2 separate regions of the Homo sapiens genome follow, and region 2 is linked to region 1. The links come from fine-mapping of genetic effects on gene expression. A gene starts in region 1. The other region holds a variant in brackets. All regions are shown on one strand. Distances are between the middles of the regions.

Region 1 (5,391 bases):
CCCACTATAAATGCCATGAAAAATAGCAGTCTTCATTATGCTTTAAAACTTTATTGTCTTCACAACCTTTGCAATTAATAGCCTGTCATTAATAGCCTGTCCAATCAACTGCATATTTTTATTTCTTTAGGTACTAAACAAAGAACTATCCTACTATTTGAATTTTATCTCTAATCCACTCTGATACTTTTAATGTTAAGAAAAACTGTTGTCTTTTTGACCACATAATGGTATGAATTCAAGACTGCATACTAACGTCAATGGAAGCACTGAATTTTCAGTAAGAAAGTAAAAGGAGTCATAATAACTAGTAGCAACAATGAAGATGACAATCAAATGTTAAAATCATCCAGATGAATTTCTGCAGTGAACTTCTGTAGGTGTCTTGACTGCAAATGTCTGTTCTTTCTGTGGTTAGTGACATCAATTAATGGAAAATAAGGTGCAGGAACATGCTGATGCGTGTTTTAACAAGTAAATGCAGTGTGGCCTGTGGTAGGTCTCACTTTGCAAATATTATATGTTCTTAAGAAGCCAAACAGAGAACAAGTTTAAACTTGAGGATAGCAAATGTGAATGAAACAAAGAGAATGTCTGGGTTTGTTTTTTTCTTCCTGAGAAAGGATTTTCCCACATATCTAGAAATAAATGTAGACTGCTCAAATGATCAAGCAGTATTTCATTATCAGTTTTATTCAATACTTAAAATGTGCATGGTAAATTCTCCATTGATCTCTTCTACTTCCAGGGATTCATTTACCACTTATTTACTGGTAACATTCAAATATGCCAATATTATTCTAATTTTTAAACTTAAAACACATTCTAAGGAATTTTTCTGAGTTACCTCAAACTCAACAAATCTAAAATTAAATTATCTACCCATCGAGCCCAAAATCCCACTTAAATTCCTTAATAGTCTTATAGTCTATGTAATCACCTAAATTAAATATTTCAGTCATATTCTAATACTAAGCATAGTTCTTATACTAGTGGTCAATAAATATTTCTCAAATAAATGAATGCATTTTCAATACTTTCTATTCCTCTCCCTATAATCTGATGGTTTGGTAAGTTTAGTAAGTTCTATCCACTGTACTTCAAATCCCCTCTCACGCCATCCCCTTCTCTCATCTGCTCTGTTGCTGTTTTATACAGACCTTCGAGCCTCCTAACTCTTATATCTCTGTCATCTAATACATCTGCATCTCTACAGCACAGATTTCATCACATTGCAGTCTGATTCAAATATATTCAATTTCTGTCTTATCTGTAAACCAAAATTCTAATTTCTTCTCCTCACTATCTACAATTACTGAACTCTTCATTTGTCACCTCTGACTCGTTAACTGAACCTTCCTCCAAAGCCATACTTTTACATTTTTGATCCTACTGTGTAATCTCATGCCTCCGTGACTTTGATCATATTATTTCCTATGCTGGAATATTTTTTTTCTTTTACTCCATAGCCTGCTTATCCTTTAGTTTCTAATTCAAACATTTTCCAGGCCTCTAAGCAGAATTATTTTTTTAACTCCTCAAAGCTTTTATGATACTTTTTCTTTATACTTCTGCTCTAGCTCTCAACACAGACTAAGCTTTATTTCAATAATCTGTTCATGCATCTGTCTCTTGAAATCCTAAAAAGGCCTGACCTCCAGCACTTAGTTCCTGTCCCACAGTAAATGCTATAGGAAGTTTTCAAAATTAGCATTGAATTAAAGCCATGTGTACATTATTATTGAGAATGACACATCCATTTAAGGAGTAAGAAAAGAAAATAGAATTGAATGAGTGAGTCTTTAGTTTGAGAAGATTTAAATGATCCAATCCATGAAGTGATATGAACTCATACTGCGAAAAAGGTCCCCTTTTCAGTGAACAGAAGTTAACTGAAAAATAAGACACTTAGTGGTGAAGGAGCCCCTCTCCACTCTGCAGCCACCAGTACTCAATACTGCTCCTTTCCTTCAGGGTCTTTGACAGTCTTTAGGGCAGTGGCAGTCATTCTTCATTATTTATTCTCTGGGCTTGTTTTTCCCATCTTGTCTTCCAGGTGCCCTGAGTGTAGCTCTTAGAACTCCAGGGCTTAAGATGAGATAATGTGTTGCCTGTGGGAGGGAAGCACTCCGGCTTCCACTTGAAAAGCTTTCATTTTGTTCCAGTACCCGAGGGAACATGAGCCTCTCTGGAATGTACTTGCTGCCCTCTTCCTTTGGCTTAGGTGTGTGTTCTCTCTGAGCAGTGGGATTGGAGAGAGGGAGGCAGACTGTTCTGGTTTCCTCCAAATACCCGCAAGTGCTGCATTGCATAGCCCCATATATGATGCGCTGGCAGGCAGATGGGCAGCAGTGGGGAGAGCTTGTTGTATCTGAATTTTAATTACATATGGTAAAGAATCCTTGCTAGTTTAGAGAAAGCTACTCTTCAGGTTTACTTTCTTTCAGTGAAGGGGCATTTTATCCAATTAGAGGGAAATTATCAGAGGCCAAGTTCTTATCTCAGTCTCTGCAGATTTACCACATAAGAAGATGCTAATTATAACTTCCTAACCAATGCAATAGGCTCTGCTCCAGTAGAGGAATCTTTTTAAACTCTTGGTTATAAAAATACTATACATATACACATTAATTAGAGTGAATTGTCAAGACCCCATGTGTAAACATATCCAGCTTCAACATTTATTAATTCTTACAGCAAATTTTATACCTCTACCCACCCCTATGCTCCCTGATTATTTAGAAGCAAAATCAGACATCACATTATTTCATTCATAAATATTTTTAAGTTTACAGGAATCCTGCCAGCAATATTGTTCATACAGTTTACCTTTGATTAATAAACTTCTTACCCTACCTGGAATCTGTATTTTGTTGCCTCAAAACTTGAAAAGTATTTGGTACTTCCACAGTATATTGAATTTGTAAAACTTACACAGAGAGTTGGATCATGTGAGTCAGCTCTACCCCAGTGATTAATGTATTCTGTACACAGTAGCACCCATGGTACAGGAACGCCCCTTCTTCGGTCACCTAGTAACTTTTCACTAGTCAACACCAAACTGAATAACCACTATGTTGTGAGAAAGTGCTGGGCTAGCTGACTCGGATCATCTCCTAGAGTTTAGGAGAAATAACAATCACAAAGTTTGAATTTGCAAAACCTTTAGGCTTTGCTGGCAGGAGAGAAAATACCACTTTTGGATCATAAAATGGATATGGAATACATGGGCTCAGGTAAACTGGGCCAAATATTGAAGCAGATTTGGAGACAAAACCAGATGCTAAAGCAGGCACTCTTGGGTGATGACCTTTGTGAGGGGGCTGGTGGGGCCACTTGGATGGCCACTGTGGTCTTTCTGGGTCAGGAACTCAGCAGTGCCCTTCACCAGCTGCTGGAGCACACCTCAGGCACCCTGCGTTCCACCTGCCAGCAGCTGCATGTGCTGCTTGACAAAGAGAATCAATGTGTCTCGAGAAAAGGCAAGTATTCTTTTTTTTAGTTTATTCTTTCTCTAAGAAATATTGATTAGGGCAAGATCTGAGAGGGGCTATGAGTATACCAGATAGGCTAAGATAGAGTTTCTGTCCACAAGAGACTAACAATTTCAAAGGGGAAATAAGTTGAGACAAATGCACAATAATGCCAGGGACATTGGGGCCAGTCCCATTAGAAACACATGAATGAAGTGCTTTTGGACTTCAGAAGCAGTTTAAATCCCATCTGTAGGGTGGGGAATTGAGAAGTTTGCTAGAAAAATGTAGTATTTAAGCTGAAGCTTAAAGAGTGAATTGGATTTATGCAGCAGGAAAGAGAGAGTCGGTAATTTTAGTAGGATCCAAGACTTAGAGACAGGAAAATACAGGCCACTGAGGCAGAGCTAGTAGTTTGTTTTTTATATCAGAATATAGTATTCTATCTCTAGGGTCATTTGAGCTTAGCCTTATTGATTGCAAAATTACTGGGAAGACTGGAGTGGGTTGGGATAGGGAATTGGATCCCCATGCACTGGGGCTGGAGAGGGATTCTTGGGAATAGGTCCAGTTATGGATGTGGAAAAGTACAGTAAGGCAGGAAGAATGTGGAATCTGATGAATATAATCCTAGATAACAACAGTTACTCCAGATAAGCATATAGGTGGCATCATGAAATTCAACTCTAAATAATACAGTATCAAGATAAGTGGGCAGGTTCCATCTATGAGGAAATCCAGGGTAGATGATGTTAAGAAATTCAATCTAAAGGGCAAATAGTGGGCATCAGGGAAATCTGTCTAAAGGCAGCATGACTGAGAAGCCATCAGCTGCAGCCCACAATGAGACCTTTAGCCTCTGGAGGGAGTGGAACATGGTCTTTGGCAATATAACAAGCAAATATATATTCAGAAAAAAACAAGGACTTGGTTACCAGAATAGGAGTTAAAAATAAAGACAAGTTCTCAGGTATAAGACAAAAACAAAACAAAACAAAACACAAGTTGTCAGAACTGGATCCCAAAGAAAAGCCCTGACTGGTGAAGGGATGATTTGGTGATGGCTTTAAAAACACTAAGCTATGGGGCCTTAAATTACCTATTCTTTAGTTCAGAACTGAATTCTAAAGACTAGAGAGGTACTAAGCCTGCAAGAAGTCATCAGGTGACCTCAGTAGTGAGGAGAAGCAGGATGAACAAATAGGAGAGTGGGAAGAATGATGACGGAGTGAGAGATTATATAAGATTTGATCATGCTAAGAGTTTACTTCAGAGTGAAGAAGGTTGACCTGAGTTAGTAGGCTTTGAGTAGCCACTTCAGGTTCCAATCAGAGAATTGGTATGGTCAGAGCTATTCTCTGAAGGACTAATTTGAAAATTTCCAATGCTCACAAATTCATCAGGAGGAATAGTATAAACCTAATCCAATTCTTATAGCAGTAAACTAGGCTCCAAAACAAAGCATCTACATTGGCAGAAATAATGGAGGTATGGTGTTTCTGCCACCCAAGCCTCATCTGGAGTGTTCGCCTAATTTTCAGCCCAGCATTTTAAATGGATCATTGATAAACTATTGTACATCCAGTGGTAAAAGAAGAGTTCTCAAAATCATACCAAATGAAAAACAATTGAGGGAGATGTTGACTTCAGTTCTTATTGGGGGAGCAAGAGGTTATGACATTTGTCTTTAAATATTCGAAGTATCTTTATAAGCAAGAGGGATTAGATTTACTCTTTGCTACCATGTTAAAAATGGTTTGTTGTCAATCCTACAATTGTTAAAAGAGTGACAGTTATACAATTACTTCTCCTTCAGGAGTTTGGCTTAAATGCACAGTAAAGGTCTTTGTAGGTTTCTAAAATTATCTTGCCATGTTTCATTAGATGTCAGTGCAGAAACATAATTTGGTTTAGTTTT
Region 2 (5,391 bases), 39 kb after region 1:
GGCTAGTCTAAACTGAGATGGGCAGTAAGTTTAAGATACACACTGCATTTCAAAGACTCAGTACAAATAATATATAAACTATCTCATTAATAATTTGTTTACATAGACTACATGGTAAATTTATATTTTGGTTATATGAGGTTATATAAAATATATAAAAATTAACTTCCTCTTTTATTTTTTAAACATCTTAAATAGTTACTATTAATAGAATATTTTAAACTACATATGTATCTCAAATTATATGTCTATGGAATAGTGCTTCTCTAAATGAATTTATAATCCAGTGAATAAGTACACAAAACAATACACAAAATTACGTTGTAAAATAGTAACTGATTGAAGTTATATTTAGGTGATATAAACAGTGGTACTAATAGTTGGTACTAGATGGTACTAATAGTTGTTCAGAGAAGGGAAATGGCTTTTTTATAATCTGTAACCAGTAGAAGTTTTGTGGTGTTTGTGGCATTTTATCTGAGCTTTGTAAGTTGGTGGAAATTCAGACAGTGGAAATGAAGAAAAAAGGCAAGTTGGGGGAGAGAATATAATGCATTTGACCGGGGTGGTAAGCATAGCTTAGCAGGAATTCACAAGTTGTGTAATAACCATTGTAATAATGTCTAATATGCCAAAGGCCTTTCAAATACTTAACATGCATTGTATCACTAAACCCTCACAGAAATCCTATGATACATAATTGTTCTTATTTTATGGGAAACTGAGGCACAGAAATTTTAGGCAATTTGCCCAGGTTCTCATGGCTAAGTAAATGGCAGAGCTAAAATTCAGACCCAAGAAATCTGCTTCCTGTGTGTTGAATGGCTATTATGCTGTCACTTTGTTAGCACATAAAGCTAGGATTATTAGTCAAAGATACAAGATGGATTTTAGGGCATCCAGGTACACCTTTGATGTTGTATGATGTCTGTACTATGCTTTAGTACAGAGATAATATTAGAAATATTTAACAAATGATATGACCTGGACACCAACCAGTGAACTTGAAAGCAGCCCTCAGTACAGAGGAACAGTCTCCTGGCGACATTAACTTTACTTGCTGTTTTGGGGGAGATCCCGTGGTCCATGGGAAGCATGCATAAGTAGAGGAATTTATTAAGCCATTGATACTGAAAATGAGGCTTTGATGACAGTATAGCCAGCCAATCTGGTGTACATCTATCAGTTTTGCTTCTGTGCATTTTCTTTTTCTTTTCTTTTTTTTTTTTTTTTTTTTGAGACGGAGTCTCGCTCTGTCGCCCAGGCTGGAGTGCAGTGGCGCGATCTCGGCTCACTGCAAGCTCCGCCTCCTGGGTTGACGCCATTCTCCTGCCTCAGCCTCCCGAGTAGCTGGGACTACAGGCGCCCGCCACCACGCCCAGCTAATTTTTTGTATTTTTAGTAGAGACGGGGTTTCACCGTGTTAGCCAGGATGGTCTCAATCTCCTGACCTCGTGATCCGCCCGCCTCGGCCTCCCGAAGTGGTGGGATTACAGGCGTGAGCCACTATGCCTGGCCTCTTCTGTGCATTTTCATTTCCACCATAAGACTTTGCACCATACGGCCGTTACTTACGCATGCGGCAATTTTCCCTGAGATAGTCCCATAGCTGCTTCTTTATCATTCAGGGCTCAGCTCAGATGTCACTTGTTATTCTTATTCCCTTATCTTCTAATCTGAGGTCACTTTTTTAACTTGTTACCCTTTCTCGATTTACTTCCTAACACTCATCATTGATATTTTTAGATTTATTTGTTCATGTATTTTCTATTTTCCTTTGCTTCTTTAAAAAGCAAACTCCATGAATGAAGGACCCTGTCTATTCTATCCAGGTTCCTTCTTCTGTGATTAGAACAGTGCCTGGCACATAGTAGGCACCCTAAATATCTATGACTTGGTGAATAAGGGGAGGTCTATAGCTGTCTCCAGATTCTAAAAGTTTAAGAACTATTGACTTGAAGGAATACTCAAATTCTCTCTGTTCCGTAGTTTAGAGCCTGATTCTACAAACTCTTAACTGACAGGCTAAGGCATCGATGTGGATCAGCATGAAGATGTGGAGTGGAGAGGGGTACCTAAGGGCTGCTCTCCAGGCAGCTCAGCTGGCACATTGCTTCCAGAAAGCCTCACGTTGCTTTGCTGCCAT[A/G]AGAGGATGAAAGGGAGACAAGCCAGTGGTGGTTGGAATTCTCTGGCAAGAGGCGGTAAGGGCCTTACTGAGATGATGGCAGACCATGCAAAGAAAGGCCGTTATGTCAGAGACGACAGACATGAAGTCCAAAAATGTGATAGGAATTCAGCTTTCACTTATTAGTGTTTCCTCTGTTGCCTGACTTTATAAAAGTAGCCAAATTAGTCAAGCCAAATTAGCCAACATAGATAATTTAGGGGTTTGTATAGATTTTCCTCAGTAAAAGTCTGTGTTTACGATTGTCCAGTACTTTTGCGTCAGCTTCTTCTCTGTTTTGCTTGTAACACACCATTCCTTACCTATGTGCCTGAGTAATTCTTACTGAACCTCTTTCACATCGGTGCTGAAGTGCAGCCTTGCCAAGGAAGCCTTCCCTCACTCCTCCTTTGTACCAGGTTAAGTGTTCCTGGTATATGGAGCTACGGCATTTTGTACTTTCCTTATCACTGTAGTTACCATATTTCATGACATCCACTTGCTTGTTTCCTTCCCTTGTTGCTGTAATGGCTTTTCAGGGAGTCTTTTTTTCTGAAATATTTTTTTTTCTAATCACCTCTCCTTGTGAAATTTTATTACCACGGATATACTGTATGTCTATGTACCATATATTTATCTGTGTTTTATACATCTGAAAGAGTAAGCCTTTTTGTGTCTCAGCCAAGAACGAATTTTCTCTCCCCAAGGGTGACATTACCAAAATTGAGAATGCATGCAACGAACTGCGCAGGCACAGACACTGTCCAGCTCAACTCTGTATTGCCAGTGCGGACACATAGTACATGCTTGATAAATATTTGTGACTAACTAGATGAACAAGATAATCTCTGCAAACCTTACAGTTACTCAACCTTGAAATTGATAATCCTGAAACTATATTGGCATGTTTAAAAATAGTACATTTAAACTTCTGCTGTCTTTCATAGATGAATCTACTGCCAATAGGCCATCTGTGCTTTCTTTTTATTCCAGATGGGTTCGTATAGGGCTTTCCAGATTCACTCTTTGAGCCCTTTCTTGTGCCCAAAGTCTTCAGAAATAAGTTTGTCAGGTTGAAAAAGAATCTGTGGCTGTGGGAACTTTTTTCTTTTCAAACTAGTATAACTAAATGGGAATTGAAACTATGACATTTAGTTTTGCAAGATGAGACTTATTTCATCAGAATTTAAAAAATTCACCTCAACTAAGCAGTATTAGAATGTGCTATTTTTCAGGAAATGGAAGTAGCCTAATATAGCAGTAGCTTGGCATTAATGAACATGACACTATGTGGATATTTATACATGTAGCATAAAATAGGTGAAGGTATTTGTCAAAATTAAAAGTGCTTCACAGAGAACAAACAGTAAATATTTACATATATGTATCTAGGCATAGAACCACACACATAATTATAATGTGTGATGTTAATATACTGTGTCTGATTCATAAAGATGAGAAGACATATCACTTTTTACTTCATACTTGTGAGGATCTCTGCGTCTCTTATTCTTCAGCCTCTGTAGTTCATTCATTCATATATTAATTAATTCAACAAACAGTGTATCCCAAAGGCTCAACGTATAGTGGTGTCCTGGTATGTAGGGTCTCATTTTTCCCTTTCTTCTTTATAGCATGTTTTCAACTCATAGGCAGAGTTATCCCTTAAAGCAGGAGTCCCCAGTCTCTGGGCCATGAAATGGTAGCAGTTCGTGGTCTGTTAGGAACCAGGAGGTGAACGTTGGGCAAGTGAGCAATGCTTCATCTGTATTTACAGCCACTCTGCATTGCTTGCATTACTGCCTGAGCTCTGCTTCCTATCAGATCAGTGGCGGCATTTGATCCTTGTAGGAGTGCAAACCCTATTGTGAAATTCACCTGCCAGGGATCTAGGTTGTGTGCTTCTTACAAGAATCTAATGCCTGATAATCTGTCACTGTCTCCCATCACCCCCAGCTGGGAACTTCTAGTTGCAGGAAAACAAGCTCAAGGCTCCCGCTGATTCTACATTATGGTATATAATTATTTCATTATATATTACAATATAATAATAATAGAAATAAAGAGCACAATAAATTTAACTTGCCTGAATCATCCTGAAACCATCCCTCCAACATGGAAAAATGGTCTTCTACGAAACTGGTTCCTGGTGGCAAAATAGTTGGGGACTACTGCCTTAAAGCATTAGTCAAATCATCTCATGCCTCTGCCCCAAACCCTTCAGTGGCTCCCAGCTTCCATCAGAATAAAGGCTCTGTGTGAACTTGGCCCTCACTGACTCCAAGGCATTCTCTGCTCTACTCGCCTCCTCACTTATTCAACCACAGTGACCCTCTTGAGTTTTTGGAATATGCCACACCTGCTTCTGCTTTAGGTCTTTGTGTTAGTGATTCCCCTTGCTGGAATGTTCTTCCATCAGATATCTGCATGTCTGTTACCCTTACCTCCTTCAGTTCTTTGCTGAAACTTCACCTTCTCTCTGTGGTTTACCCTGACTCTAACATTGCAATCTACTCTTACCCTGCAACCTGACATTCCTAATCCTCTTTAATCTGCCCTATTTTTTCCCTCTAAGTCATTTCTCCGTTTTTACATGTGTTTCTTCATTTGTACATTTCTTGCAGAAAAACCCTCTCTTCCATAACTAGAAAGTAAGCTCTGTGAAGACGGGGAACATTTTTTGTTCACTGCCAAATCACAAGTACCTAGAATGGTGTCAGGCATAAGTTAGATGCTCAATAAACATGAGTGAATGGGTATATATAAATAGAACTTGCATTTTATGGACCAAAAATGTGAGGAGGACAGTGAGAAGTGCCAAGGAAGAAAATAAATTAGCATTAGAAGATGGACAGAATTGGTGGTGTGAGTTGGTAGGTGGGATAGCTAGGGAAGACCTCACTGTGGAGGGGACTACCGAGCTGAGGAGCAACCGGAGACCAGAACCTTCCTGTATGGCCAGGAGAGCATCCAAGTGGGAGACGCAGCAAGTTCCAAGACTCCGAGACGGGCACGCATTTCAAGTCAAGGACTCGAAGGAAGGCTGTGATGGTCAGTGCGCATGTGAGGGCCACAGAAAGATGATGAGGTTTGTAAGATAGTAAGCGTCCTGGTGATACTTCATATTCTATATAATCTTCTGAAAATGATCCCACAAACAATATATTTGAAAATATGTGGCTGAAAAGAATAATGATTCACCACTAAATCTTTCTGAAGTTGTGCCT

Direction of the effects. Alleles are on the strand shown, and positions count from the first base shown. SD is a standard deviation of normalised expression in the study named.
With allele A in place of G in region 2, the expression in testis of the gene that starts at base 3,069 in region 1 is lower (small effect, 0.11 SD a copy in GTEx).

The links. PIP is the estimated chance that this variant, and not a neighbour inherited with it, causes the effect. A credible set is the group of variants that fine-mapping cannot tell apart.
Region 2: its variant is the best candidate, but not a certain one, in a credible set for the expression of DTHD1 in testis (GTEx, PIP 0.79).

The regions. Positions count from the first base shown.
Region 1 is chr4:36,278,548-36,283,938 of GRCh38, forward strand. It overlaps DTHD1 (death domain containing 1), which reads left to right and starts at 3,069. Exons shown (of 10, transcript NM_001170700.3): 1 at 3,069-3,482. The coding sequence starts at 3,212.
Region 2 is chr4:36,317,396-36,322,786 of GRCh38, forward strand. All of the region lies in intron 8 of DTHD1 (death domain containing 1), which reads left to right. Among named protein-coding and RNA genes, the nearest start is that of DTHD1, 38 kb to the left of the region's middle. The variant A/G (reference allele first, on the strand shown) is at 2,147.